4 linked regions of the Homo sapiens genome follow. The protein of the gene in region 2 interacts with the protein of the main gene of each other region in a pairwise test. Each region holds a gene or a part of one and is shown on either strand. Other genes may lie near its edges. The genes, in order: SLAIN1, PDLIM7, PLEKHN1 and GARIN6.

Region 1 (7,815 bases), on a different chromosome or scaffold from region 2:
AAGACCAGAGCAGAGTACTCTGCTTGGTGCTGCTTAAGACCTAAAAAGAGATAATACAGTTTAGGAGCTTGGACTCTGAAATCAGACTGCTTAGCTTCAAATCCTGGCTCTGCCACTTATGGCTGGGTAACTGTGGGCAAATTGACCTCTCTGTGCCTCAGTTTTCTCGTTTATACAATAAGAATAATTATCTCAAGGAGTTGTTTGACAATTTAATAACTTAATAAATGTAAAGGGCTTACAGCAATTCTTGGCATTTAGTAAGCACTAGATAGCTTCTAAGATAAATTGTAGAAAGTTTCTTTCTAATGGCAGTAATACATGTGTGAGCTATTCATAAAAACAAAACAAATCGACCACAGAGGAAAGGATATAGATTAAGAATTAGAGCTGGGTACTATTTCCTAGTTTTCATCCCATGAAGACTGATAAATGAATATCACAATACTTGCCCTGATGCCTTAGCTAACAGCTTGATGAGGAGAACCAAATGAGATAATGAATTCTCTTAAATGAGGAGATCCAAATGAGATAATGGATTCCTTCCTTCCTTCCTTCCTTCCTTCCTTCCTTCCTTCCTTCCTTCCTTCCTCCCTCCCTCTTTCTCCTTCCTTCCTTTCTTTTCTTCCCTTCTCTTTCTTTCTTCTTGCCTTCTCTTCCTCCCTCGCCTGCCTGCCTTTCCTCCTCTCTCTCTCTTTCTTTTAGAGATGAAATATCACTATGTTCCCCAAGCTGGCCTTGAATTCCTGGGCTCTAGCAATCCTCCTTTCTCAGCCCCCTGAGTAGCTGGGACTACAGACACATGCCTCCGTGCCTGGTTGAAATAATGTTTGCTTTCTACTTGAGGCCTTCCCAAAATTTTTAGCCAAAATTGCTCCTTCTTGATCACTCCCTATGCTGTTTATTTATATTTTCTTCATGATACATAACACTAATTTTTGTGTTATAGTTAGTTGCTTATATGCTTCTTTCTCCAACTAGATAAGGTCTTGATGGTGGAGACACTGTTTTCTTACTCACTTCTCAAAACTCATCTAGCACTTGAAAATAATAGACATGTAATGAGTGTTTATTCTAAAGGGCTCTTACAGGTATAGCTTGACAAATCAACAGAATGATTATTATTACTATTATTGTTATTATAACTACCACCACATGTGACCTTATAGGGTATAATTATGTGGGTTTTGGGCATGAATATGAGTAGTAGAGTTGGGTGGGGTTAGAATGGAGCAACTCACACAGGGATTTTTTTTGAATAAATTCTGACTTCTTGTATTTCTGTTTTCTCTTTCCATAATCTCCTTACATTAAAATGCAACACATTAGGTGCAGCAAGTATTTTCCTGGCTATTAACTGGGTCAGATGTAAAATAATTGATTATTATGGGATCTGCAGAAAGCCTCTAGTCTTCCTATGTTGTTACCATATGATAAATGAGGTTTATGGAAATAGCTAATTATGTGTTTGTCTAAATTCCAGCTAGAACTTGGGGATTTATTTATTGATTCATTTATCTTTTAAAATTTTTTGAGTATTTATTTGCCATGTGCTAGACACTGTGCTAGGCACTGCATATGGGCAGTGGGACCTGCAGTGTTCGAGTCTATTCTGTATGTATAAACAGGAATCTCCATGAAGAGGCATAAGAATCACTCAAACATTGTGGTTCAAATCAACTTGAAAACACAGTTGGGGATCTTTGATCTTAGTTTAACACATTAGGTTATTTTCTTTTCTTGCAGTAATTGGATCTATAAACTTGAATTAATGTAGTGCTCATATTAGGGTATGTCAGCTGCACTGATCGCAAAATTTAAACGTATGAATCTTACTCTAGGAGAAATTTTACTCTGGCCCACTAGCAACTGCTAAGAACCATCATTTTCATGAGTGAACTTGGGCAAGTAACATAACCTTGTAAGCTCATCTGTAAAACTGGGATAATAACAGGCTGTTTCTAGATTTCCTTTGAGAATTATTTTTATATACTCAAGAACCTATGGGTGCTTTTGCGATTCTGTTGCTGGATCTATTTAATGTTCATACACAGTATTAGAAATATATGTGAAAAATACAAATTAAAATAAGTTCATGTGCTTTCTTAAAATTCACTAGAGTGATGATAGTTCTGAAGTGTAATGAATAGAGAGAAACATGCATTTCTTTATCCAGTTTTGAATGTGTGATATGTGGATGTTTCACATTACCTTATGGTGTATCAAATGTATGCTTAAAGCATAAACTTTTAAATGAGACATGCACTTTCATTTTTCATATCCTCTTTGTAAACCTCTGAAATCACCTACATATTTTATTTAAAATCAAAACATTACAATTGAGCAACTACAGCATGCAATTTCTTTCAAAACACAAAGCTTACTAATTTGCATCAAAATAAAAAAATCAAGACTGCTTAATTAAAACCTTGACACCATCAACCTCTTTAATTATACGTTAAAGAGACTGGCATCCTGGGGACACCAACTTGAAATCAGTGTGCATTTTGAGTGTCTCTGGTGTGTGTACATGTGCAATTCACAGAAGGGAAAAAAAGAGGGGCATTAAGAGAAAGCAAAAACATGATTTAAATTTTCTTTAGACATTAATAATTTCACACTTTTAAAATAGGTAGGAAAAGGGCAAATTTGTCTTTTCAGAAGAATAATGCAGACTAGAATTGTAAAACAATGTTTCATCTCTTTTCTATGTCTAAATTTCAATGCATGCTTTCTTTTTAAAGAACAAAGATTTTTATGATAATTATTACTTAGAAAACAGGGTTCAAAAGCTTGGCTACTGCTTGTTGGATGTATATAGACCATATTGGGTAAATGAAGGAGGAAAGGGCTGTCTGTTTCTCTCCTTCTTTAGAGTGTATATAAATTGTGCAGTAAAATGACGGCTTTTCTTTACATCTTAATTCTTGTTGTCTTCACTATTATGTGCCTATTCCCAATTTCTTTCTCTAGTCTGGGACCCAGCAGCTCTTTGTTCTCATTGTGTCTGTCGTCTCCCTTTCTTTGTGTTGCAGGGAGATACTGCTACCCGCATCTGCCACTGAGCATGCGGGAAAAATCCTTCAATAGATTCTTTACTTAGGACTTTCAGTAGTATTACTCCATTTCTCCAGGTTTTGGTAATAACCAAAAAAAATCCTAAAGATATACCGAAACTTGGAAAGGTGATGGGTGATACAGGTGGTTAGGTGGTGGGCTAGCAAGCTGGGACACAGGGAAGGTTAAGGGAGTCATCACACGCATTTAGCTAATTTATGGAAGCGCTCACCAAGCATGTTAAATGCAGAACATCCACCCTGCACACAGAAGCTAGAGATGTAGATTAACAACTGAGAAGATACAAGTGTTTCTGAGCAGGAAGACACAAAACCATATCTGAAACCAATAGATACGATGTGTTAGCAGCTCCAGAGAAATGAGGTACATTGTCACAAAGATTGGTATGTAAAGTCCCTAGCAAGGACTTTCACTAGATAGTATATCATCTGAGGATGAGAACCAGTGGTGTAGATTTTTCTCATAATATAATCTCAGGTTTTCCTCTGATTGTGTTAAACACTCAAAATGCTAAGTCAGTCAGTATTCATTGAACACAACTCGATTAAATTCTTCTGCTTAAAAGCCTCTTTTAAAAAAAGCAGATTTGCTCGTTTTCCAAGTGGTAAGAAATAGCAGGTTTGCAGGTGAGATTAAAGTGTATTGGGTAGAATTCTGAGGTTTTCTGTTTTCTGCTTTCCCACCAGCAAGTCTGACTTTAATAACTTACACATTATTTAATAGAAGGAGCACTAAACAATTTTACTCATATTTCTCCCCATAACCATTTTTGCCTATTGTACTCATTGCCCGCATCACGAGCTCTTAGAATGGTTCCTGGCACAGAGTAGGTGCTCAAAGATCTTTTGTTTGGGGAATGCATGAATATACATAGTATGAAAAAAAAAGCAGTTCTTCTTTTATTGTGACAAACAATGATGGTAACAGTTCAAATTTGACTATTTTAGAATAAATAAGTAAACACTTGTCTCCTTAGCAGCTGGCCACTCTACCTCTTAGAGAGAGGGCTTTCTTCTCTTTCTTCTCGGTCTCCTGTCTCCCACCATTTTGCTTCTCTATTACCAATGAGAACATGAGTGGCATGGTCCCAAAGCCTTTCTGTTCCCCCTATCTCCACTTTTCGGTTTTTAGAATAACGATCCCCAGCCTTTAAGTTTTCTATAGGATTCGTTAGCCAGTGGCTATTAAGTGCTGTCACGGAGCCTAACAGAGAGCTGGGAAGGGAGCAAACCAGCGGGCCGGTGGTGCACTACTCGAGGGCCAGCACCTGCAGCTGCTTCTTTGGGAACCCCCTGGTCCCCGCAACCGCCTCAGAGACCCGCGCAGTTCACTGTCCCACCAAGCGGCAGGAGGAGGTGCTTGTGGCGGGAAAGTTCAGGCCAGGTCCAATCAGGCCCCTGGGATTAGGTAGCGAGGGTGGGTGCGGCTCCCCGGCCCCAACCCGGGCTGCCGGCCCCGCCCCCTGGGTGGGCTTCCCCACGGTTCTCCGCCCCCCCCCCCCCACCCGCCCCCTCGGCGCTCTTGCCCCGCCCCGCTCCGGGGCCGCGGCTAAAACCCGGAGCCGCCGCGACGCCCAGGGGACTGGAGGGACGCACTGAGCATGTGCAGATCAGCTCGGTGGTGGCTGCCGCGGCCGGAGGCGAGGGCCCGGTGCTGATGCGAACCGCCGGCTCGGCCTCAGCCCGCGCGTGGTCGGCCCCCCAGGCCGGGGCGACAGGGAAGGAGCCGTAGCCTCCCCGTGGCCCGAGGAGCCGGCGCGGCGGCGCGCACTCCCCGGCGGCCGCGGCGCCCTCGGGGCCCACGATGATGGCGGAGCAGGTGAAATGCGCCTCGGCAGGGGTCAGCTCTGGAGCGGGCTCCGGGCCGGTGGTGAACGCGGAGCTGGAGGTGAAGAAGCTGCAGGAGCTGGTGCGCAAGCTGGAGAAGCAGAACGAGCAGCTGCGGAGTCGAGCGGCCAGCGCGGCCGCCGCCCCGCACCTGCTGCTGCTGCCGCCGCCGCCGCCCGCCGCGCCGCCCCCCGCTGGCCTGCAGCCTTTGGGTCCTCGGAGCCCCCCGGCCGCCACGGCCACCGCCGCGGCCTCAGGGGGCCTGGGGCTCGGGCTGGCGCTGGGCGCGGGGGGCGGTGGCGGCAGCGGTAGTGGCAGCGGCGGTGGCTCCAGCCCCGCGTTCCCGGGCACCTTCTGCCTGCCTAGCCCCGCGCCCTCCCTGCTTTGCAGCCTGGCGCAGCCACCCGAGGCGCCCTTCGTCTACTTCAAGCCGGCAGCAGGCTTCTTCGGCGCGGGCGGTGGCGGGCCGGAGCCGGGGGGCGCGGGGACGCCGCCAGGGGCAGCTGCAGCGCCGCCCTCGCCGCCCCCCACGCTGCTGGACGAGGTGGAATTGCTGGATCTGGAGAGCGTAGCCGCCTGGCGGGACGAGGACGACTACACCTGGTACTGCCTGGCTCCGCTCCTTCCCCGAGACCCTGGCCTCGGGGGCTTCGGGCACCGGGGAGCGGGGGCGGGGGGCGGACGGGGGTCCCCTCGCGGCAGCCGGGGTGACTCCCCGCGGCTCCCGGAGGGGCCGACCCAGCAGGTGTTGAGCCAGGCGGTGACACTTCCCACGATGAGGCTTCTCATGAAGGCAGAAACCTGTTTTCTAATCGCTCCGACTGCGGATGAACCGGCCCCCCCTTCCCCCCATCTGCCATGGGTTCTGCTATTTGCTGATTGTTGGGTCCCAAGCTCCTCGTTAGCATTAAGTGCAAAATCCATGTCATCTTGTCTTTTTGCTCAGTGCTGCTCTTTTCCCCAGTGTTTTCGGAGGGATGACGGGGGATGGTAGGGGTTGGCCTCTGTCTGCGACTGTTACTGTTCTTTCGTTTTAAACGAACGCTGGACAGGATTTGCGTGCTCTTCCTCCTCGGGTGGCATCGGAAGCCGCGCAGTGATGGATCTCTCTTTATAGAGAGGTTCGTTCTTGCTGTTTGAATTTTGCAGTCGTGTGCCCTTTTGCGTTGCATTTTCATTGAAATCTTATTTTCAGAGACTGACTTGCTTTTTAAAATGGGGTGACCTCACTGGCTTTCCCATAAATAGTGCCAATAAAGAGGACTTTTCTTGGAGTGGAATGAACAGGTGGGAGGGACTTTTTTATTTATTTATTTATTTTTTTACCTAGGAACCAACGAACTGTCTTTAATTTTTTAAATTAAACTGTAGAAGAAAAGTGAGATTAGAGAAGCCTTATTTTCTTATTTCTTGGAAACTTTTTAGCTTGGTTATCAGAAAACTTGAGGCTGACAGCATTTATTCAGTTGACATCTGGTTAGCACTGTCTACTTTCCATGAATGAGTAACTTTAGGGGGAGGCTTGCTGTAGTCCTTCTTTACTTTAGGTCCTTTTTATGTAGGACCCTTTCTGTTTTTCCAAGCTGTGTTTTCATTACTTTCTTTGTGTCTCTGTTGCATGATTGCATGGAAGGGATTGGGAAATGGAGATCCTTACTGGTTTCCTATTGGGAACTGCAGTGTTCCTTTTCCCTTACACTCTGTCATGTGAGAGCTCTAACTGTAAAGTACATTAGTTAATTGGTTTCATTCAAGAATCAAAATATATGGAGTTACAGTAAGCCTTTCAGAGGTGTATTCATCATCCACCTTAATACTTTTTGGCAGCTGTGCAGGTAGCTCAAGGTGTAAAAAAATCAAACAACTCATCACTTTTGGGAACTTTAAGCCATTTTTTCAAAGCTGCACCCTTATTTCTGTAAAGTAATCTCAGTTTCAGTCTGAATGTGGTACTAGAAAATGCTCTCATGATGGTCCTTAGATTTCACTAATAACTCTCAGCCCTTATGCCACTTTCAAATTATTTTAGGTTGATTTAGTCCCTACTTAGCCTTTTCTGATGGTATGTATGTAAACAGTGGAAGGAAACTTGTTTACATTTTTGATGGGGAGATATATGGGATCAGTTTTATGCTTAAAATATTTGCATTTTAAAATTTATTGTGATATTGTTTGTAAATATGAGATTAGTAATCTATTAATAACTTTCCTTCTTTTGAATGGATTTCTGTCATATTTAGTTAGCATCCTATTACTAGCATTTTGGTACCTAGGCTTTCTTTTTATAGTTTAATTTTGTCCAAATAGCATTGAAATAATCAACTTTAACAGAAATCACCCACTTAGTGGTATTAGTATATTAGCTCTTCAGATGGTTTGAAGCAAATCAAAGTTGAAGCAGGTTCTATTTCATTCAACAAGTACACAGGTGAATAAATCAAAGCCTTGATGCTTTACAAATGTTTCTAGAGACAAATGGCAGAGAATCTTCCTGAAAACAAGCCTGAGATTAGAATTCCAGGTGGAAAAACAAGGAGGGTTCATTAATCTTAGTGGGATGGTCTTAAAAATTTTAAAGTTACCTGATTTACATAATTTTATTATTACATTTTATGCATCAAGATTTTGTTTGCATTGCAAATCTTTTTGATGAAGAAAATATCAACAGGGTTTAATTTTTAAAGTTTAACCCACTTGTTAATGCTTGCAAAGCACTCTGTTCCTTTATCACTGCAGACTATAGTGTCCCAGTAGTGTGGTCTCAGAAATAAGAGTGCTGTTCATTTGGTTCCCTGATATGTTTGCAGGATGGCAACTTATTTTTATTTCCTGTGTTTATTAAGAAACAACTGGAGTGGGTATATAGTACCTTATTTTAAAAATATTTAAAACTACAAGTTTTACATGCTCA
Region 2 (7,440 bases):
CATGTGGGCGGGGCCACTAGCTGATCCCAGCCCTGGAGTTGGACCTGGGCCCACATGGGTGGGTGAGGTGGGCTTTTCTGAGTTAGGCCAGCCCCCTCCCCCTCCCCTGACCCCAGAATGGAGGGAGGTGGGAGGGGCAAGGGCTGGCTGTGGGCCCAGGCCTGGGAGATGAGGTAACGTCTGGGACTGGGGGGCTGGGCTGCTCAGGCTGACTCACCCCCACCTCATGCAGGGTCCAGCCCCCTGGCTTTTTCCCTCCTTGGTTCCTCTGGCCTTACCCTGCCCCTGGCTTGAGCCCCTCCCTGCCTCTCTCCAGCCACCCGCCCAGCGCTGTCTTCTGCTCTCCTGCTGCCCTCCCCACGCTCTGAACACCCCTCATCCTCTGTGCTTCCTGCCCTCCTCACTCTGGGAAGGGAAGCCGTCCCCGCCCCCCACCCCCTCTCCAGGAGCCAGCTAGCTGCACCCCAAGACCCCCACCTCGGGCTCAGCCCACAGCTCCCAGGAGCCAGCCCTGTGGGCAGGGAGTGGCTGGGCCAGGTTTCCCTTCTACTGACTCACCATGACCTTGAGTAAGTCACTTCCCCTCTGGGGTGTCACTTCCCCATACACAGTATAAGGGGTTGATTTAGTTGGATTGAACTAAAGGTGAGGGAGTGGCTCAGGGTGTCTCCAGGTGGGCTGACCCCTCAGTTGGGCCCCCATGCTCAGCAGAGGTGGCCCACAGTGGTGGAGCCTTAGGGTCAGAGACACTTCCTGGCTCTGCCTCTTACTAGCTGGGTGACTTGAGGCAAGTTGTTTAACCTCTCTGTGTACATTTGCAAGTGCAAAATGGGTAAAATCCCAGATTACTCCACAAGGTTGTTGGAAGATTCAGTGTCAATATGTAGCATAGTTGGTGCTCAATAAACTGAAGCAAGTCTTCTTATCTAGCGAGTGAGGAAGGGGCCGCCGAGCTCTCTTAGCCTTCTGACCTCCTACGCAAGCAAGAGGTCATGTTGAGCCCAGCTCGCCTTTCTTTTCCCAGTGCTGTCAAGCTCTGTGCCTGGCTGCCCTGCCCTCTGACATCTCTCTGAAACCTCTTGCCTCCCCTCTCCCTGCCTCAGCTCAGTCTGTGCACTGACCCACCTGAGGAGCCTCCTGGGGCCACTGGCAGCCTGGACCCCCCCAGATCCCCCCCACCCAGTGAAATTGTCTTCCAGCACTGCCTCACAAAAGCCTACTTGATGCAGTGCCAGGCCTCTTGCCAGATGGCTGGGTGGTCCCTTAGGCTTGGACCCAGTCAAGCTGCCCTGCCTGTGTTGCTGGGGCTGGGCTAGAGGCCTGGAAGGGGTTTATCAGGGTCACCCTCTCAGGGCCTGGGAGATACCCAATCCCAGACATTAAAACTGCCAGTAGCCCCTCTACCTTCAAAGCCAAGTCCTGGTCCCTTCCCCTGGCATTCAAAGCCATCGTAAGTGAACTCTCACCCGCTAGGCAGCACACGCCATTCTCCTTTACCGAGGCCCACCGCTTCCTCAAAGTCATTCCTGATGGTCTCAGCTCATGCTGGTGGCAGCCATTTCTCCCAGCCTACTGTCTCTACTCATTGCCACAGGAACCAGGGACTCCCAGCTCAAGAGCCTGAAGGATTGGGGTCAGGGGAAATTGGCAGTCGAGGGCTTGGGAGTGACAGCCATGTATGGCCTACGAAGTCCCAGCTGTCAACTTAGGTCCCATTCAGGCAGTGTTCACAGGGAACCGGGAGATAACAGGGCCTGTTCCTGGCTCTCAAAGGGTCCCAGCAGACCCCTATAGATGGCCCCCGACAGGGTGCTGGGGGGTGAGAGGTCCATAAGAGCCCCCGGTGGTTTCGGGGAGGAAGCTGCCCCCTGCATGGGCCAGAGGGCATATCTGGTAGGTGGAGTGGCCTGGGCAGGAGGCCAGCAGGAGCCTCAAAAGGCAATGGTCCTCCTGAAACACTTGGGCTTTAGCCTGAGCGTGGCTGTTTGTGGACATCATAGCAATTTCTGGACTGTGGGGGAGGGTGGTGGCGGTGAATAGATAAGCATCGTGACTGGGGAAGCTCAGGTGAGCACCACCTGAGGGAGAGGGTCTGGCAGTGAATAAATAAGCAGTGTGACTGGGAAATTGTGAAGCTCAGGTGAGCGCCACCACCTCCTGGGTTGCTTTAGTGTCCAGCAGCTGCCTAGAACTATGTTGAATGAAGAGCTCTCTGGGTTCTGGAAGTGGGACAGCTTTGGGTGGGGCAGTGTTACCACCGTCAGCCTGGCTTGGGTCTGCAGGGTCCAGGGCCTCGGTCACTTTGCTTCTCTCTCCACAGCTCACTCCTGGGGGCAAAGCGGCGCAGGCCGGAGTGGCCGTGGGTGACTGGGTGCTGAGCATCGATGGCGAGAATGCGGGTAGCCTCACACACATCGAAGCTCAGAACAAGATCCGGGCCTGCGGGGAGCGCCTCAGCCTGGGCCTCAGCAGGTATGCGGGTGGACATGGATGGGTGCGCCCGCGCTGGCAGTGGGGATCCCTGCGGGCCCGGCCCGCTGTCACGCTTTCCTTCTCCTCCAGGGCCCAGCCGGTTCAGAGCAAACCGCAGAAGGTACGAGGCTGGCCGGGACATCCGGGCGGTGGGCGGTGTGGGCTTGGACGGCCAGGCCTGCTCGCCCTCCTGGCACATTCTCGGTACCCCAATCCCTGGCCGGGAGTGGAGGGCAGAAACCGGAGCTAAGGCGGGTCTAGGGCCCTGGAGTTGAGCCAGGGGCTGCTGCACGGTCCTGGCACCACGCATGTCCGCCTGTCTGTCCGCCTGTCTGTCCGCCTGCTGCCTCCCGCCGCCGGCGCTGCGTGCTCGCCCGCACTCGGTCAGCCCTCGGTCCTGCGTGGACTGAGATCGCCACTCCCAAATGGGCCCCTTGAAACCTGAGTCGTCCTCTCCCCGTAGCCTCCAAATAGATGTAGGGGGTGGGGTGGGGGTGGGGGGCTGGAGCTGCCGCTGTCCTCTGCTGCAGGCGCCCCACTTCCACCCAGGCCCCCACCTTACCCTGCCCGCCCGCCCTGCCCGGCTGTGTCTCTGCCCAGGCCTCCGCCCCCGCCGCGGACCCTCCGCGGTACACCTTTGCACCCAGCGTCTCCCTCAACAAGACGGCCCGGCCCTTTGGGGCGCCCCCGCCCGCTGACAGCGCCCCGCAGCAGAATGGGTACGTCGGCCCCTGCCCGCCCGCGCCCACGCCATCAGGCCCACTGTGGCCCCACGCCCGCTGCCCGCTGCTGCTCAGTCTGTGCTGCGCCCCAGCCCGGCGGAACCGTGCGGCAGCGCCCCCTGGCGGCCGGGGTGGGGCTGCAGGCACAGGGCCCCTCCCGAGGCTGTGGCGCCTTGCAGGGCACCGCCCTGGGGAGGGGTCTCTGAATGACGCCGCGCCCCCTGCTGGCGGCTGGGGGTTGGGTTGTGGTGTCGGGCCAGCTGAGCCCCAGACACTCAGTGCCGCCTTGTCCCCGGCTGTTCTGACCCCTCCCCGTCTTTCTTCCTCTCCTGTGTCTGTCCCTTTGTCCCTTTATCTGTCTGTCTGTCTTATTTCCTTCACAGGTGCAGACCCCTGACAAGTCAGTGAGCCCCCCTCTGCCTGTGCCTTTCTTCTTCCTTTTGGCACTCTGGGTGGCGGCCCCTCCCCACCCTGGCTGCCCTCCTCTCCACTTCGCCCTCCTGTCCTCTCACCTACCCGCCCAGCAGGGCTCCTGGCCTCACCCTTACCCACTCCCTCCCATCACTGTAACCCAAACCCACATGCACCAAATCCTGGGAGGGGCTGCCCCCACCGCCCACCCCCAGTGTGGGGTTCTGAGCCACACCCTCCCCACAGACAGCCGCTCCGACCGCTGGTCCCAGATGCCAGCAAGCAGCGGCTGATGGAGAACACAGAGGACTGGCGGCCGCGGCCGGGGACAGGCCAGTCGCGTTCCTTCCGCATCCTTGCCCACCTCACAGGCACCGAGTTCAGTAAGTGCCAGCCCAGGGCAGGGGGTACTTTCCTCGCCCCCAGCCCAGGCGTGATCCCTGACCCTGTGTCTTTTTTGGTCAATGCCTGCCTCTGCCCTCTCAGTGCAAGACCCGGATGAGGAGCACCTGAAGAAATCAAGGTACAGGGACGGGCACCAGCCCCTCTCCCACCTCCTGCCTCTTCCATTCCAGCTACTGCCCTGTGTCTACTCCTGAGGCTCCCAGCTGGGGCTCTCAATTCTCCCTTCCTTCCTTCCTTCCTTCCTTCCTTCCTTCCTTCCTTCCTTCCTTCCTTCCCTTCCTCCTTCCTTCCTTCTTTCATTTCTTCCCTCCCTCCTTCCTTCCCTCCTCCCTCCCTGCCTCCCTTCCATCTCTCCTTCCTTCCACTTCTTCCTCCCTCTCTCTCTGCCCCTCAGGGAAAAGTATGTCCTGGAGCTGCAGAGCCCACGCTACACCCGCCTCCGGGACTGGCACCACCAGCGCTCTGCCCACGTGCTCAACGTGCAGTCGTAGCCCGGCCCTCTCCAGCCGGCTGCCCTCTCTGCCTCCCTCTTTCTGTTCCTCCTGCCCAGGGCACCCCCTTAGTGCCTCCAGCTTCTGCCTACCTCACCCCCCCTTTCGTGCCCCTGGCCTGAGCCTCCTGCTGGCCTGGCCCTGGCCGCCCACCTGGGTTCATCTGACACTGCCTTCCCTCTTTGCCCTGTGGTACTGCTGTCTGCCAGGTCTGTGCTGCCTTGGGCATGGAATAAACATTCTCAGCCCTGCTTGCTCTGCCTGTCTTCTATCTTTGTGGACCTGGTTTGCATTTGGGGTGTGGGGGTGTTTCGTGGTTCGGACTGTTTGGGCCCTGCCGTCCTCGTTTTCAGTGGGAGGGGGTACCTGGCAAAGGGGCCCTGCCCTGCCATCACAGATGGCTTCCTGGCATGAGGGGAACCCCAGGAGCTGCCTCAGAAGCGGGAGCCCTGCCTCGTCTCCCAGCTAGAGACCGCACACCAGCTAACTGGACATTGCTAGGAGAAGCTGCCCTTCCCATCCCTACCCCAGTGGGACCTGGAATCCAACTCGGCAGTTTCCACGCCCCCAGTCATCTCCCGTGGGGCCAGCAGGACCCAGGTTGGGGGGTGGGGCCATGTCAGGAAGCTCAGCCATGCAGGGCCTTGAATGGCAGATCTTGCAGCCAGGTGCCCAGGACAGAAGCCCCAGCCCCAGCCTCATCTACACCCCAGGAGCCCTGGCCTGGTGAGAGGGAGTGGGCTCGGGCCTGGGCAAGGGTGGGCAGCCTCCAGGGGCATGGGGGTGGTGGGCTTCTCTCAGCTGCCTGGGGCTCCACCCCCGTCCTTTGGGGTCCCTGGGCACCCCTTTAGAGTCACTTTCCCCGGCAGGCCCTACCGCCCCCAGCCCTACCAGCCGCCCGCCCTGGGCTGTGGACCCTGCGTTTGCCGAGCGCTATGCCCCGGACAAAACGAGCACAGTGCTGACCCGGCACAGCCAGCCGGCCACGCCCACGCCGCTGCAGAGCCGCACCTCCATTGTGCAGGCAGCTGCCGGAGGGGTGCCAGGAGGGGGCAGCAACAACGGCAAGACTCCCGTGTGTCACCAGTGCCACAAGGTCATCCGGTGGGTGGCCTGTTCCTGTCCGACCCTGGCTTTCCCATCCTGCAGCCCAGCCCCACCTGTCTGCCCACCTGTCTTGCCTCAGCTGCGACTGGGGGGAATAAGGATTCAGTTCTCAGCTGGAGTAGGAGTAGGGACCTGGGCTGGGTCCTCCCATTCTTAATCCCACGCTACCTACCCCAGCCCACCCACAACAACTGCTAGCAGCATCTGCCGTGGCGAAATAGCCGAAGGGCCAACCATAGGCTGAAGCTGCACCCCTACCTTTGCTGCTCTCTGGGCAAAGAGGGGCCTGCCCCCTCCCAGCGCGTCTGCCCCTCCCTCCTGCTCTCTGTCTCCCTCTGCTCTCAGAGCATACAGGCCTGGAGCCACTCCCTCTGTGCACTGCCCCGTGGGGCCAAGCAGCATCAAACACCCCCCAGCATCAGCGTGCCGGATTCTAGAGCCTTCCTAATTCGCAGGCCTGGCCTGCTCTCATCTCTGTCAGCTCTTTTTTTTTTTTTTTTGAAACAGAGTCTCACTGTGTTGCCCACGTTGGCGTGCAGTGGCGCGATCTCGGCTCACTGCAACCTCTGCCTCCTGGGTTCAAGAGATTCTCCTGCCTCAGCCTCCTGAGTAGCTGGGATTACAGGCACCCGCCACCATGCCTGGCTAATTTTGTATTTTTAGTAGAGACGGGGTTTTACCATGTTGGCCAGGCTGGTCTCAAACTCCTCACCTCAGGTGATCTCAGGCCTGCCTTGGCCTCCCAAAGTGCTGGGACTACAGGTGTGAGCCACTGTGCCCAGCCGACTCTATCAGCTCTTGCCAGGTAGAACAGGCAGGCCAGCAGGACAGGGCAGCTCCAGGGTTTGCCCAGGGGCGGCTCAGCTTTTATGAGGCTCCAGTCGTCAGCCCTTCCTCCCGGGGTCCTCCCTGCTCTAAAGCTGCCTCTCCTGTCACCAGCAGTTCAGTGTGGCGGACTGGCTCTGTAAGCTTCACGGCTGCCACGGTCACTTCCCAAGCCTGTCTTCTATCCTATGTGGAAAATGGGGAGAATGAACTGTCCCTCCCAAGGCCTCCTGGTGGGTGGTCAGTCAACCTGAAGGGGGCCAAGACCCCCACCTCTCTGCGTGTGCTCCCTCTGACCGCTCTCGCCTCCCTGCAGGGGCCGCTACCTGGTGGCGCTGGGCCACGCGTACCACCCGGAGGAGTTTGTGTGTAGCCAGTGTGGGAAGGTCCTGGAAGAGGGTGGCTTCTTTGAGGAGAAGGGCGCCATCTTCTGCCCACCATGCTATGACGTGCGCTATGCACCCAGCTGTGCCAAGTGCAAGAAGAAGATTACAGGCGTGAGTAGGGCTGGCTGGCGGGGAGGTGGTCCCAAGCCTGTCAGTGGGAACGAGGGCTGCTGGGAAACCCACAGTCCAGGTCTCTCCCCGAGTGAGCCCTCCGGGTCCTTACCAGCGTAATAAATGGGCTGCTGTACTGGCCTCACCCTGCATTAGTCAGGATGCTCTTAACAAATGACCATGTTCCTGCTCAGAAACCGCCCAAGGCTGCAAAGAGCAGGAGGACCAAGCCAGGAGAAGCCCTGGGCCCTCCTGACTCCCACTTTGGGCTCTCCCTGCCCTGGTGAAATGACAGAACGGCCAACTTGACACGCTGAAGCTGCTCTGTCTCATGCGTCCTCCTCATTTCTGGATCCAGAGCCAGGGCTGCCAGGAGTAGCCAGAGAGCTCTGTGTGGTGATGTTCATATTAGTGAGGTTTACCTTGACCACGAGCAGTGGGAAACTCAAAATAATGGTGGCTTATTTCTCATCTAAAAACATCCCGGGGTGGGTGGTCTGGGACTGATCT
Region 3 (7,324 bases), on a different chromosome or scaffold from region 2:
GTTTCTGTGTCTGTTTTTTGTAGAACCAGGTGTTAAGCATTTACCATACAATACTGCAGACGTGGGAGGGTTTTGAGTGTTACCCAGACACCCCCAAATTCTTCTAACAAGTCTTCAGAGGTTGAATAACCCAAGCCATGTTACACAGCTTAGGAAAGAATGAAGATGGGTTTAATCCACTGAGTCCAGATCTCACCATCTCTACCACTAGACCAGGCAGCTCTGTGTGGGGAAGTGTGTCTGTGTGTGCGTGTGTGTGCACAAGTGTGTATGTGTGCATGTGTTTGCACGTGTATATGTGTGCACACATCTGTGTGTATATGCACAGGTGTATGTATACGTGTGTGTTGGTGTATTTGTGTGTGTGTGGAAATGTATGCATGTATGCAGTGTGCATGTGTGCATGCATGTGTGTGCATGTGTGTATAGGTGTGCATGTGTATGTGTGCACGTGTGTATGTGCACGTGTGTATGTGTATACATGTGTATGGGTGTATTTGCGTGTGGATATGTATGCATGTATGCACGTGTGTGCATATCTGTGTATGTGCAACTGTGTATGTGTGCACGTGTGTATCCATGCATATGTGTGCGTGTGTGTACATGTGTGTATAAGTGCGTATGTGTGTTCCCGTGTGTATGCATCTGTGTCTGTATTGTGTGGCATGTATGTGTCTATTGTGTGTGTATGCATGTGTGCGTGTATGCATTTATACATGTGTATGTGTGCGCATATATGGATGCATGCATGTTGCCTGCATGTGCACGTATCGGGTGTGTGTGCGTGTACGTGTACACGAATATGCATGTATGCATATATGTATGCACGTGTGTGTAAATTCTGCCGTGACTGTTTTCCTGTGGAAAGGCTGAGTGTGCAGGTTCTGTGCCTGTGGGGGGCTGTTCTTCACGTATGTGTTGTGTGGCTGTGCACAGGTTCTGTGCCTGTGGGGGGCTGTTCTTCACGTATGTGTTGTGTGGCTGTGCACAGGTTCTGTGCCTGTGGGGGGCTGTTCTTCACGTATGTGTTGTGTGGCTGTGCACAGGTTCTGTGCCTGTGGGGGGCTGTTCTTCACATATGTGTTGTGTGGCTATGCACAGGCAGACCATGCTATAGTCCTGTAGCTGTGTGGATGCGAGCGGAGGGGGTGGGGGGCCCAGGGGAGGCCCCCTCCCCTGAGCTCTACTCCTCCTAGGACATCCTGGACCTGGAGAACCAGCGAGAAAACCTGGAGCAGCCATTCCTGAGTGTGTTCAAGAAGGGGCGGCGGAGGGTGCCTGTGAGGAACCTGGGAAAAGTTGTGCATTACGCCAAGGTCCAGCTGCGGTTCCAGCACAGCCAGGTGGGGGCCGGGCTGGGTGGAGCACGCTAAGGGTGCAGCATCCCCATCAGCCTGGGGCTCCCCAGACTCCGCACTGACGACCCTGCTCCCCGCGCAGGATGTCAGCGACTGCTACCTGGAGCTATTCCCCGCCCACCTGTACTTCCAGGCCCACGGCTCGGAAGGACTCACATTTCAGGTGAGGCGGTGGGCAATGGGGTGGGGCCATGGCCGCCCTTCCCTCCATGGATCCCTGAAGCTCCTCCTACCCTGTGCCTGGCAGGGGCTGTTACCGCTGACGGAGCTGAGTGTCTGCCCGCTCGAGGGGTCCCGAGAGCACGCCTTCCAGATCACAGGTGTTTGGGATGCTTCCCGGGCCCCCAGAGGCACTCCTGACCCAGGACTTGGAGAGGGGCCTGCCCTGTGGCTGCGGAGCACGTGTGTGTATGTGTGTGCCCTCTCTGCCCTGCCCGCAGGCCCACTGCCCGCACCCCTCCTGGTGCTCTGCCCCAGCCGGGCCGAGCTGGACCGCTGGCTTTACCACCTGGAGAAGCAGACGGCCCTCCTCGGGGGGCCGCGGCGCTGCCACTCGGCACCCCCACAGGTCAGTGCCGGGGACCCCACCCCCCTCCCCACCCTGATCCTCGCAGCCGGCTCTGACCTCCTCCTCACAGGGGTCCTGCGGAGACGAACTCCCCTGGACTTTGCAGCGCCGTCTAACCCGGCTGCGGACGGCGTCAGGGCACGAACCCGGCGGCAGTGCTGTCTGTGCCTCGAGGGTCAAGCTGCAGCACCTGCCCGCACAGGTGGGTGGGAGGTGCGTGGGGCTGTAGGGGGATGGGAGGGGTGCATGGTGGTGGGCAGGGCGGTGCAACAGCAGCTCAGTTCCCTCATCGCCTGACCCCACCCCCACCCACCCAGGAGCAGTGGGACCGGCTCTTGGTCCTGTACCCAACGTCCTTGGCCATTTTCTCCGAGGAGCTGGACGGGCTTTGCTTCAAGGTGGGCCCCTCCCCACTGTGGGCCCGCCCCAGGGAGGCAGCTGTGTGGGGGTGGGAGGGGGCAGCCATGCAGGAGGAACCTGTATTTCGGGGCTTGTTGAGACAGAGCGCAGGGCCCTGCCCACCCAGCCCGCGGTCCTGGTCAGTCTGGTCTCCGCTGTGACATGGAGGAGCCCCTGCCCGCCCTGAGGTTCTCACCCTGAGGTTCTTGACCGTCACCCTGGGGCGGGCAGCATGGGGCTGAGAGCCCCTCCCGGGGACTCCCTTGTGTGTGCCTGCCCGTGAGGCGTGTGTGTGCACACGTGCGTGTGCGTGTGTCCTCCAGGGCGGGCTCCGGGAAGGGGGTGTGCACTCACGGTAACCTTCAGTCACTGAGGAACAAACACAGGGCCCTCCCCATGGTTCACCCGGCCCAACTTCTTCTCTGGGGACCCCAAGAGGCCAGTCCTGTGGCTTTGTGTGTCTGCCCCTAGCCGGCGAAGGCCCCCGCGCCAGGGTTGGTGGTAGCCCCAGGAGACATGGGACCCACTGGCCTCCCTCAGGGTGGTGGCCTCGGTGCCCAGCTCTCCAAGTACCCAGCCAAGCTCTGGAGGGCAAGAGGGTGGGATGAGGCCAGGCGGGGCCCCGGGGCTGCCCCTACAAAGGCCTGGCCCTCAATCTCTGCTCCGCAGGGGGAGCTCCCACTCCGTGCCGTCCACATCAACCTGGAGGAGAAGGAGAAGCAGATCCGCTCCTTCCTGATTGAAGGTAGGGCCCTGACCCTGGTTCTGCCTCCCGCCTGGCCAGGCCATGGTGGGGCGGGAGCCTGGGGGACGCCCGACTCTTTAGTGGGGGCGCTGAGGGGTGCACCCCCCCGCCAGCCCCTCACAGCATCTGTATGCCAGGCCCCCTCATCAACACCATCCGCGTGGTGTGCGCCAGCTACGAGGACTACGGTCACTGGCTGCTGTGCCTTCGCGCTGTCACCCACAGGGAGGGGGCCCCGCCGCTGCCTGGTGCCGAGAGCTTCCCAGGGTCGCAGGTGAGGGGTCAATAGGCCCCACAGCCCAGGTCCTGGGCAGTGGTAAAAAGGGGGCAGCAGACCGGGCGTGGTGGCGCACGCCTGTAATCCCAGCATTTTAGGAGGCTGAGGCGGGCGGATCATTTGAGGTCAGGGGTTCGAGATCAGCCTGACCGACGTGGAGAAACCCTGTCTCTATTAAAAATACAAAAAAATTAGCCGGGCATGGCGGTACATCCCTGTAACCCCAGCTACTCAGGAGGCTGAGGCAGGAGAATCGCTTGACCAGGAGGCGGAGGTTGCAGTGAGCCGAGATCGTGCCACTGTACTGCAGCCTGGGCGACAGAATAAGACTTCGTCCCAAAAAGATAAAAGGGGGGACAGCACGGTGGGTCCAGGCAGGGGCGGGTGGGGAGGGGGTCCAGCCCTCACTCACCCCCACTCACTGCCCATCCAGGTTATGGGCAGTGGCCGAGGCTCACTCTCCTCAGGCGGACAGACCAGCTGGGACTCGGGGTGCTTGGCGCCCCCCTCCACCCGCACCAGCCACTCCCTGCCTGAGTCCTCAGTGCCATCCACCGTGGGCTGCTCCTCCCAGCACACACCGGTGAGCGCTTACGGGGTGGCAGACGAAAGTGGGGCAGAAGGCTGTCGGGTAGGTGTGTGTTGGGGACCCTGGTTCCTCAGGGGAACTCAGACTGGAGGGAGCCCCTTGCAGCCTCAGAGAGTTGCACGGGAGAGGGGCCAAAGGGCTCTTCCTGGAAGGTTTGTGGTCCCCACAGGACCAGGCCAACTCTGACCGTGCCAGCATTGGCCGACGGAGGACCGAGCTGAGACGCAGTGGCAGCAGCCGGTCACCCGGGAGCAAGGCCCGGGCAGAGGGCCGCGGCCCTGTCACCCCACTGCACCTGGACCTGACCCAGGTGGGCCCAGCACACCCACACAGCCCCTGGCCTGGTTCCCACCGTTCCGCACCACTGGTCTCTGTCTCTGGGCCCAGTTGTCCTGGAGCCACCCAGAGGCCTCTTGCACAGAGAAGGGGTGGCCTAGGCTGTTTCTAGCCGAGAAGCCCATTTCTCCCACCTCTGCCCTGCAGCTGCACAGGCTGAGCCTGGAGAGCAGCCCAGATGCCCCTGACCACACTTCGGAAACATCACACTCGCCCCTCTATGCCGACCCCTACACACCACCCGCCACCTCCCACCGCAGGGTCACAGATGTCCGGGGCCTGGAGGAGGTCAGGCCCCTGCTGGGTGACAGAAAGGGTGGGAGGTGCCTGCAGCCTGAGGCTGGGGAGGTCTAGACCGTGCGTCTCACCCTGGGGTCTGGGGCTGCCCCAAGCCTGAGGTCTGTTCAGGCTCTGATGGGAGGTTGAGGTTCTGGGGGCCCCTGGCTGCCACCCAGGCCCCAGCCCTGGCTCTCCCTGCAGTTCCTCAGTGCCATGCAGAGTGCACGTGGACCCACGCCCTCGAGCCCACTCCCCTCGGTGCCTGTGTCTGTGCCTGCCTCTGACCCTCGCTCCTGCTCCTCCGGCCCCGCTGGCCCCTACTTGCTCTCCAAGAAGGGAGCCCTGCAGTCCAGAGCCGCTCAGAGACACCGGGGCTCAGCCAAGGATGGGGGGCCGCAGCCCCCAGACGCCCCTCAGCTTGTGAGTAGCAGCCCCCACGCCCGTGTGCCCCGGGCTCCGGGCTGGCCGGGGGTCTGGTGTGGGGCCTCTTGGGACTCTGAGGGAGCAGGGAGGGAAACAGGAGGACGGGGGCAGATGGAGGCCAGGGGGGCCAGTAGGGAGTTGGGGAGATGGGACTGGGGAGGGAGAGCAGGGGGACATGGGGGGCTGCACAGTGACAGGCCGCCTCCAAGCTCCCTGCCTGGGGCTGTGCCCGGCTCTCAGACTTGCGGTTTGGGGTTCCAGGTCTCCTCTGCCAGGGAAGGTTCGCCCGAACCCTGGCTGCCTCTGACAGGTGAGTAAGGATCCTGCCTCCTGAGGTGAGTGCCTGTTGCCTCCCACAGGCTGACACATCTCTGCCTTCCCTACCAGATGGTCGGTCCCCCAGGAGGAGCCGGGACCCCGGCTACGACCACCTCTGGGACGAGACTTTGTCTTCCTCCCACCAGAAGTGCCCCCAGCTTGGAGGGCCTGAGGCCAGTGGGGGGCTTGTGCAGTGGATCTGATGGCCGCGGTGAGGTGGGTTCTCAGGACCACCCTCGCCAAGCTCCAGGGTACCTGCCCCTCTAACCCACTTCAAATTACAAGTCAGGGTCTGAACCCAGTGTGATGGGGGGAGTCTCTGGGGCCCTGAGTTCAGAGCCCGTCCCTCAGCTCCTGTTCCTTGGTGCCAGCAGCTGGGGCAGGGAAGGGTGGGAGGGGCCCCATCCAAAGGATGCCCTGGCCAGCGAGGCTGGGTCACAGGTCAGGGAGGTCCTGGCCGTCCACAGGGTCGGCCCTCAGCTCAGCCCGCCAGGAGTCAGGGAGGAGACTCGCTGGGAGTGGGAGGGCAGCACGGGCGTGAAGGTCGGAGGACAGAGAAAGGTCAGCAGGGTCAGAGTATGTGAGGTCAGAGGGCATGAGGGTCACAGGTCAGCAAGGTGTGAGGAGCACAAGCCAGGGTGCCCCGAGGAGGAGGGTGGGTGGGTCCTTGTGTGGCCTGGCGCGCACCACAGGGCAGCACGGGAGACGTTGACACCACCGGACGAGAAAGAAAAAAGAGAGAAGAGAGAGAGGAGAAGAGAGAAAAGAAGAGAAGAGAGAAGAGAAGAGAAGGAAAGAGAGAGAGAGAATAAGAAAAGGAAGAAAGAAAAAGAAAAGATAGAATTTTATTGGTGCTGCATCCATGTGTTCTCTGCTCAGCAGCCAGGGTCTCCCACAGTCTTGAGGACCCCCACCCAGCACCCAGCCAGGCAGCCCCCTTCCTCTGCCACCTCGGGCCCCTCACCGACCTTCCCACCTCATCTCTGACTCCTCTTGGCTGTGGGTCCCCAGCTGCCCCACAGGAGCCCCCGGGACAACCCCAGGAGCCCAGCCCTCCATCTGAGGCCACCGAATTCTCCCTCTGCACCTGCACCCAGGGCTCCCGGGGAGGGGCTCGCGGCTCTGCCACAGACCCCCACCCTGCAGGGGCTGCTGCACTGGGGAGGGGCAGGCAGAGCCTTCGCTGTCTCAGGCCAGAGCCCGCAGAGGCCTTGGCCACAGTCCTTTGAGGATCAAGAGTGATGGGCCTTGGAGCCCTTGCCAGCCCAGCCCACCTGTGAGGAGGCTGCCCATCCCCTCTTTGAGGCCACCCTGTGTCCTCTCCCCTGCCTCTGCCCAGAGCTCCAGCCGGAGTGTCTTGCTGCTCAGACCCCTCCGAGGTCCAAGTCCTGTCCTGCCACTCAGCTCCCCCTGCACCCCAGAAGAAACGCAGGGTGCGGTTGCATTTGATTTCAGATAAACAACAACTTCTTAGTAAAATGACCTCCCCACTATTGCCTGTCTGAAATTAACCGAATGCCCTGTGTTCTCATCTGTGAATCTGGCCACCCTCCTACCCAGCCACCTGCCTGCCCTCCACCCACCCAGACTTTAGCACCTCCCTCCCAGGCGTGGGGAGTGGCCGTGGTCACTGGCTGGATCCTCAGGTGAGTCGGAGGGAGCAGCACCAGGACACGCCCCCCTCCTGGACGCGGTAGAAGAGAGGGGTCAGAGGGCCCGGGCGAGGGCGGCACCTCGTCCTGCCCTGGGCGCCTGTGGTCGTCTCCTCATCCTGCATCTCCCTGGCCCGGGCCTGGCTCCTAGGAGCTGGGGCTGGGGCTGTGGCTGCGGCGCCCTTGCCCCACCTGCCGGCGGAAGTAGCGGATGGCAGAGATGGTGCCGACGTTGGCCAGCAAGGCTGCAAGAGAAGCACAGGCTCTTCTGAGGGCCAGCCTGGCTGTCGGCACCGTCTGCCCGCAAGACCCAGCCCTCAAAGGGCGGGCAAGGTCGGTGCGGCCAGGGCCGCAGCTCAGCCTGGGGGGAGCAGGTCAGG
Region 4 (7,527 bases), on a different chromosome or scaffold from region 2:
GTCTTTATCACAGTACATCCTCTGGACACCAAATAATCACATTCTTCCACATATAAAATCCATTCATGCCATCTCAACGTCCCATAAATCTTAACCCATTACACAACATCAACTTAAACTCAAAATCTCAAAAACTCAAAAGTCCCAAATTTCCTCATATAAATCAAGCATGAGTCAGACGCATCTGTGAATCTGTGAAACTGGAATAAAAAGTTATTCGCTCCTAAAATTCAATGATATGACAAGTGTAGCGAAACAATTATAGATATCCCCAACCAAAGAGAGAGAAATGAAAAATAAAAAGTGAGTCAACAGTCCGAAGCAATTCAGAACTGCAACTGGGCAAACTCCATTAGGTTTCAAGCCCTGGGAATAATCCTTTGGAGTTCTCAGCTCTACCCTCTCGGGCCTCAGTCCCATCCTCTGAGTCCTCCTTTCTATTCCATAAAGGTTAACTTATGTTTGCAAACTCAGTAGTTTCATAAGCCTATTTCCTGCCTGCAGAATTTCAGGAATCCAACAGCCTTCTTTCATTTTATCCTCTGTCCCTTTAAGTCCAAGCTACCAAAGTCTCCGCTAATAAACCATTCATGAAAACACTGTGGGTCTCCCAGGTATGTCACAAGAATTTCCTGGATAATCCCAACTCTGAATCCCATCTCAGCGTAATTCATCTCATCATAATTCAGATCTGCTCAATCTCTTCAAAGAGCCCTCTGTGTGGTTGAATAATCTCAGTTTTTGATCCTCCTGAGGCACTAGAAACAAGTTATCTAGCCATGCTTTCAGCTTTCTCTCTAAGTACACTTCTTGACAGTGAATCTAAAAATTTCAGTGTTTTTTGCAATCTGGATAGATTGAGAATGTTCCAACCATCAAGTCCTGGTTTCTTTGAGTTTAAATGTTCTTCTCACAATTTATCTCTTTCCTCCTCCCACATTTCAGTATAGGCAACAAGAGGAAACCAGGCCATACCTCCAACACTTTATCTAGAAATCTACTCAGCAAAATATCCAAGTTCATCACCTACTAGATCTGCTTTGCACATAACCATAGAATATAATTCCTCTAGACTATCTGCTATTATATAGCAAGTATCTCCTTTCCTCCAGTTTTCAATAACATGTTTCCTATTTATTTCTGAGTCCTTATCAGAAGCACCTTTAACATTCATATGTTTATTAACATTCTCTCTACAATGATTTAGGTATTCTCTAAGATCATACAAGTTCTCTCTACCATTTCCCCCGCTTTCTTCTGAACCCTCACAGTAGTGACTTTAACATCCTCGTTTGTATAAACATTATGTTTATGACAATTAGGTAATCTCTAAGAAAATACAGGTTTTCTCTACCATATCACTTCTTTCTGAGCCCTTATTAGCGGCATCTTTAATGTCCATATTTCTGTTCAAGGCAATCTAAGCTCTTTACATCATGCTCCTCAAAATTCTTCTAGCTTCTACCCAGTGCCCAATTCCAAAGCCATTTCTATATTTTTATGCACCTGTTACAGCAGCACTCCACTTCCAGGTACCAAAATGTGGAATAGTTTCCTAGGGCTACCATTACAAATTACCACAAACTTAGTTGCTTATAACAACACAAATTTATTCTCTCATAGTTCTCAAGGTCAAAGTCTAAAATGATTCTCTCTGGGCTAAAGTTAAGGTATTGGCAGGGCTATCTCCTTCTGGAGGCTCACAGGGAGAATCCACTTCCTGTTTTTTCAGCTTCCAGAGGCCTCTTGCATTCCTTTGGTCCATGGCTGCACCACTCTGACCTCTACTTCCATCATCACATATCTTCTGACTCTGACCCTGCTGCCTTTCTCTTACAAAGACCACTGTGATTACACCGGACCCCCAACGTAATCCAGATAACACCCCCAATTCAGATCCTAAACTGAATCACATCTGCAAAGTTCCTCTGCCACATAAGGTAATATATTCACAGGTTGTGAAGATTATAATGTAAATATCTTTTGGGGGAATTATTCTGTAAACCACAGCCATGTTCATTATTAACTGATTTCTGTTTAAAATACTTAACCCATATTTTCAATTACATAGTTTTAAGCACTAACACCGCTGATTGCCTATCTTACTGAACTAATATCTTGCCATTTCCTCATTTCAAACGTTGGTTCTTTTAAAAGTTTTGGGAAGACGAAATTTAGCAAGAGAATAAAATCATATATTGAATTAAACAATTCCCAGAGCAGTTATACGAATAATATCTCGATTCATTGTTATGGTTCAGAGTATCTCCAAAGTATGTAGTAGTTTTGTTGTTGGGAGAGAGGGGGAAAGCTAAAGCCCTATCACAAAACCGTAACTATTCTGGAGTTGAAAGATAGCTCAGGGGTCATCTCCATTTCAAGGCTGAGAAAAATAAGGCCCAGAGAGGTTAAATTATTAACCCAATGACATAAACTCCAACAGAGAGGAGAGAGTATATAAATTTATTTTAATATATCTAGTGACTAACTATATAGAAATCTGATTTAACAGCAACCACACAGAAAGCTGCTGCATTTTCATAAAAGGAATTTCTTAATCTCAAGTTCAGGTAGTTTTTTATTTAGCTATCTGAGCTTCTCAAGTCTTGAGGCAAATGCTAAAAAGGTAGTTTTCTAAACAGCTAGAGGAATTTCAGACAAACCCCATCAAATTCATAAAAATAGGTATTTGCCAGAATGCTACATAGGATGGTTATCAAGCCAAATGAAAGAGGTTCCACCGTTGTCAGTCTACTGACTGGTGTGGAAAATCCAAACATCTATAGGCTCTATAAGTAATGTAGTTTCTGGCTTCCTTGGAGACCAGCGCTCTAATGGAACTCTAAGACAAATATCTTGTCATATATGTGTATAGCAAAAAAGTACTTTTAAGAAAATCAGTAAAAAAAAAAAAAAAAGGCACTTAAATTAAATTTTGCTGTGTCCAATACTACCAATCCTGTTATCCCTTATGAAAAACATCAGAACCACTTGGACACTTTTAAAACGTTATTTTACTAAATGTGTATTTGGTTTCTTGGTTTTGCCAATTACAAGATAAGTAACATAGACTTGAAGTGGAAGTTAAGATATAAAGACTTTAGGAAGGGCAGTAAAAAGTGCTATTGATATGTGAATAGGCATCTCAATAAATAAAATAAAAATACTCCAAGTATCCAAAATAATCAAACATTTCAATATGAAAGGAAGAAATTATGTTTGCATTGACTTATGCAACTAAAGACTCAAGTGGGCTGGGCACGGTGGCTCACACCTGTAATCCCAGCACTTGGGGGGCCAAGGCGGGCGAATCACGAGGTCAGGAGTTCGAGACCAGCCTGAGCAATATGGTGAAACCCCATCTCTACTAAAAATACAAATTAGCCGGGCGTGGTGGCACACGCCTGTAGTCCCAGCTACTAGGAAAGCTGATGCAGGAGAATCACTTGAACCCAGGAGGCGGAGGTTGCAGTGAGCCAAGATCACGCCACTGATTCCAGCCCGGGTGACAGAGTGAGACTCCATCTCAAAAAAAAAAAAAAAAAAAAAAAAAAAGACTCAACTATGGCTATGGCTCTGTGTGTGTGTGTGTGTTTGTGTTCACATGGGTTATCATGTGTACTGTCATTTCAATAAAGATATTATAATCTTATTGAATTGAAAATATTTGCAATACCTAGCAAAATTCTTTACAGCTTTTTTTTTTCTCAATACAATCTGATGGTAAAGAATAGAGCATAAATGTGATGTTTAAGGCTCTTTTCATTCCATAGCCAGGGTATGAATGTCTAGGTAAAACTCAAAAATTGCATCAACAGTTTGAGGGTGAGTCAAAACATAAAATTTATCATGGCTATAGAAACAGAAAAAAAAAAATACATTGCCAATAAAATAGTTATTTCCCCTGGTAACAGAAATAAATTTCCTAATAAAAATAGAAGTTAAAAAGAAAATGAAAATTATACCTAAGCACTTTAAACATTTCACTGAACATAATTCCATATCCACAAACACATACACGTGGTCTTACATAAATTGAATCTCACCTATACTATGAGTTTGAAATCAGTTTTTCTCTTATTCTTTAAGAAAAAAAAAGGTCAGGGATATCTTTTCATGTCAATAAATAGGAAAACTACGTAATCATTTTTAGGGCTGCAGACTGTCCCGTCACAGAAGCTCCATAATTTATTTAAGCAATCCCCTATTGTAAGACACTAATGCTGTTTATAATTTTTTACTCTACAACAAACATTGATAAACATCCTGTACCAATCTGTTTACCAATTTATCCAATTCTCTCTTTAAAATAAATGTCTACAACTAGAGGAGCTGGATAAATGAGTATACAGAGAATGTATATTAAACTCTTGCCTTGCACAGAAAATTTACCTCTAACCCTTTTGAAAGCAATTTGCCAGAATGCATTAAGGTCCCTAGATGGTAGGTTGGTGGCGGGGTAGTGGTCTGCTGAGCTGTGGAGGGCGGTGGGGCTGAGGGTGGGGTGGAGAGGGCGGTGCCCCTGCTCTGAGGCAGGGACTACTGGGTGACAGAGACAAAGGGGTGTGTGATGGGGCAGGTCACAATGGGTAGGGGAGGATAAAAGTGGTCCTGCGGGGTGGTTTAGCAGCAGTGGATGGTTCAGGTTGGGAAGAAGAGCAGTGGGATTGCCAGTTAAGGTTGTGGAATCAAAGAGCAAAGGCTGTTGTGAAGTGGAATATCAGGCTCAAATGGAGGTCCCTCCCGAATGAGCACTGACACCTGTGTGCCCGGACATCCACGAGGGCCCCAACACCTGTGCTCCTGACAGCTCCATGCACTAAGCAGGGCACAGTCTGGATCCAGGGGACTGACTGTCTCTGGCATTGAGCGGTTGGTAATCAATACCCCACCCTCCCTGTTCTCAGTCACTTGGGGACAAAAAAGAAAGCCTGCAGAACACGACTGCTGGCCCACCTGCCAGAGTAGCCAAGGAAACAGGATGCCCGCTAAAGCATGTTAAGGAAGGTGTGGAGCAGCTGCTGGGAACTGTCTTGATTTAAAGGAAGACATGGAGGACTGCTGTATGCTACCGTATTACACGGCCCAAAGCAGCCCCGCAATGGGCATGTTTAACACCTCCATGGGGAAGCTGCAGCGGCAACTGTACAAAGGCGAGTATACTATATTCAGGTATGCACCCATGTTTGAGAGCGACTTTATCCAGATCAGCAAAAGAGGAGAAGTGATTGACGTGCACAACCGTGCCCGAATGGTAACAATGGGCATCGTTCGCACCAGCCCCTGCCTCACACTACCTGATGTCATGCTGCTGGCCCGACCAGCTGCTGTCTGTGACAATGCCAGGTGTGGTCCTGCCACCCAGAAAAGAGAAAGTCCGCCTGCAGAGATCTTAGAACTAACCAGGCTGCTTCCCTTGATGTTTGTGAAAATAACCATCCACAACAGCGTAAAAAAACAGCTCCACCTGAAGCTTGCCACGGGCCGCTCTTTTTATCTTCAGCTGTGTCCTCCATCGGATGCAAGTGAAGACCTTTTTGTTCACTGGGAAAACCTTGTTTACATCCTGAGACCACCAGTGGAGGCTTACAGTGATACCAGGGCTATCCTAGCTGGGAACACATTGGACTCATCTGTGTTGGAGGAAGTGCAGAGGAGCCCAGTGGTGAGTCTATGCAGAGACTAGATGGGGCCTGGATGCTTTGGGGGAGAGCAGGTACAGGTCCTGTAAAGCCTTTGGTGCTGCAGCTCACCTGGGAAATGCATTGCATTTGGAAGGTCTGAAGGCCAAATGAGCTTCCATTTGGAGGCCATGGTACATTGAGGAGGTTCCTAGTGCTTCTCCAGGGTTCTCCAAGCCTGAATTTCAGAGATTTCTTAGCTGTCAGCAACTCTTCATTTTATATCCACAGCTGTTCATTTTATATCAATGTTGTAATGCTGTCCAAAGCATCCTGACCAGTCTATTCTGAAACACATACTATGACCTAGGCAGGCTGATATGTTGTAGGACGTGTCTCCCTGCAATTGCCACTTATATACATTGGTGGCAACACAACATGTTTGTGTACTTGTGCAATAATTTCTTTTTGTTGTTTACCTATAGGAAGAGAAAGGAGATCTTGCTGGTCTCACTGTCTTTGCTTATTTGTTCTCTCCCTAGGGATATGCCATGAAGTTTTGTGAAGAGAAGGAGCAATTCAGAATCAGTAGACTTCACATGAATGCTGAAATGTTTGGGTCCACCTATTGTGATTATACAATAGAGATATGAATCCAACATACCTCCCACATATACTACGTTCAAGAGTTCACACACCCCTGCAGTCATAAAACCTATAGTGCCTGATGAAGGGGCAGGGTAGCAACAGCAGTAGTGATGACAGTAAGCACCACCACAGGTACCATGGATGTGGCTGCAACCAAGTCTGCAGACTCAGGAGAGAAACACAGCACTGGCAAAAGCAGCCTTCAGAGGTCCAGGAGGAAGTATAGCCAGCATGGCTATTAGTGGGTGCTTCCATGTCTTAATCTTGTTATAGCAAGGGCTGCATGCACATTCTTGTCCTAAAAGGGTACTTCAAGCATATCAGTAAGTGCTACTGGCCTCTCCCTAGAGAGCAGTATGAATGTGGTGGCTACAGGAGCAGAGAGATACTGAGAAGGCTGTTGCATTGACAGTATCTCTCTGCTACTCAAAGGCTGACTCTCTGCTACTCAGCATTGGGAGTCAGTTATCTCAACTCTGCAGGATGAGGCCACATGCGTGAATGGGATGGAAGCCAGAGGGTCTCTACCTAGCTGGATTGACTCTGCAGTAATAACCTCAAAGCCCAGTACTACACATGGTGCAGAGGTGGACATCTCACCTAAGACTGTGGAGGGGAACAATGTGATTCACCATAATAAAATCCATCAACTCAAATTATCTGCTCTAATAACATATGCTCTATTGACAGGAAGGGTAGCAATAAAACTAATGGCAATTTATGATCAGGCTCTGAAAACTATCTTTAACTTTCCCTTAACTTTATATTTTTTAAATAAATTAATAGATGACAGAATAAAATGTTGAAGATTACTCTCAGATATGATCCTACATTAGGAGAATTATTCTAAAACTGTTTTCCAAAATATAAAATGAGAACCCAGGAATACACACACACAGACTCTCTCTCTCTCTCCTCTCTCTCTCCAGGTTTGAATCACAGCATTGCCACACATTAACTGTGAGTTTCAGTAGATTGTTTCTTTAAATGGTCACCTTGAGACCATACATGTATAATATCTGGAACATAGTAGGCACTGTGTAAATGGTAGTGTTGAGAAACAAATTCTGAGTTTAATCATACTTTCCAGAAAGGGCTTAATTTTCCCAGTCTCTTCATTCTTGATTTCCTTTCTTAAATCTTAATTAACTGCTTTGCAATTGTCCCATAAAAGCTCTATTTACAGTAAATCTTCTCAGTATCTTCCAAGAATTTTAATCCCCTGACGCTATTTAGAATTCTAAATTTTCATGAATTT

The links.
Region 1: the proteins of PDLIM7 (region 2) and SLAIN1 interact in binary tests that used the Homo sapiens proteins (3 or more experiments, as listed by UniProt).
Region 3: the proteins of PDLIM7 (region 2) and PLEKHN1 interact in binary tests that used the Homo sapiens proteins (3 or more experiments, as listed by UniProt).
Region 4: the proteins of PDLIM7 (region 2) and GARIN6 interact in binary tests that used the Homo sapiens proteins (3 or more experiments, as listed by UniProt).

Annotation. Positions count from the first base shown.
Region 1 is NC_000013.11:77,693,033-77,700,847, forward strand, and holds the start of SLAIN1 (SLAIN motif-containing protein 1), read left to right. Parts: upstream 1-4,654; 5' UTR 4,655-4,881; coding exon 4,882-5,507; intron 5,508-5,848; exon of another isoform or gene 5,849-5,891; coding exon of another isoform or gene 5,892-6,025; intron 6,026-7,815. UniProt on the Homo sapiens protein: Microtubule plus-end tracking protein that might be involved in the regulation of cytoplasmic microtubule dynamics, microtubule organization and microtubule elongation.
Region 2 is NC_000005.10:177,487,558-177,494,997, reverse strand, and holds part of PDLIM7 (PDZ and LIM domain protein 7), read left to right. Parts: intron 1-2,320; coding exon 2,321-2,472; intron 2,473-2,562; coding exon 2,563-2,593; intron 2,594-3,072; coding exon 3,073-3,191; intron 3,192-3,577; coding exon of another isoform or gene 3,578-3,594; intron 3,595-3,851; coding exon 3,852-3,988; intron 3,989-4,091; coding exon 4,092-4,128; intron 4,129-4,404; coding exon of another isoform or gene 4,405-4,501; exon of another isoform or gene 4,502-4,752; intron 4,753-4,966; exon of another isoform or gene 4,967-5,165; coding exon 5,166-5,227; intron 5,228-5,370; coding exon 5,371-5,605; intron 5,606-6,749; coding exon 6,750-6,930; intron 6,931-7,440. UniProt on the Homo sapiens protein: May function as a scaffold on which the coordinated assembly of proteins can occur. May play a role as an adapter that, via its PDZ domain, localizes LIM-binding proteins to actin filaments of both skeletal muscle and nonmuscle tissues.
Region 3 is NC_000001.11:969,081-976,404, forward strand, and holds the end of PLEKHN1 (pleckstrin homology domain-containing family N member 1), read left to right. Parts: intron 1-1,196; coding exon 1,197-1,343; intron 1,344-1,440; coding exon 1,441-1,521; intron 1,522-1,605; coding exon 1,606-1,678; coding exon of another isoform or gene 1,679-1,798; coding exon 1,799-1,926; intron 1,927-1,996; coding exon of another isoform or gene 1,997-2,032; coding exon 2,033-2,128; coding exon of another isoform or gene 2,129-2,139; intron 2,140-2,243; coding exon 2,244-2,324; intron 2,325-2,994; coding exon 2,995-3,070; intron 3,071-3,207; coding exon 3,208-3,344; intron 3,345-3,780; coding exon 3,781-3,930; intron 3,931-4,105; coding exon 4,106-4,246; intron 4,247-4,419; coding exon 4,420-4,560; intron 4,561-4,752; coding exon 4,753-4,971; intron 4,972-5,235; coding exon 5,236-5,284; intron 5,285-5,361; coding exon 5,362-5,495; 3' UTR 5,496-6,785; downstream 6,786-7,324. Other genes in the region: PERM1 (PGC-1 and ERR-induced regulator in muscle protein 1), read right to left, coding at 7,092-7,189. UniProt on the Homo sapiens protein: Controls the stability of the leptin mRNA harboring an AU-rich element (ARE) in its 3' UTR, in cooperation with the RNA stabilizer ELAVL1.
Region 4 is NC_000012.12:99,643,125-99,650,651, forward strand, and holds GARIN6 (Golgi-associated RAB2 interactor protein 6), read left to right. Parts: upstream 1-4,628; 5' UTR 4,629-5,050; coding exon 5,051-5,665; intron 5,666-6,163; coding exon 6,164-6,274; 3' UTR 6,275-6,990; downstream 6,991-7,527.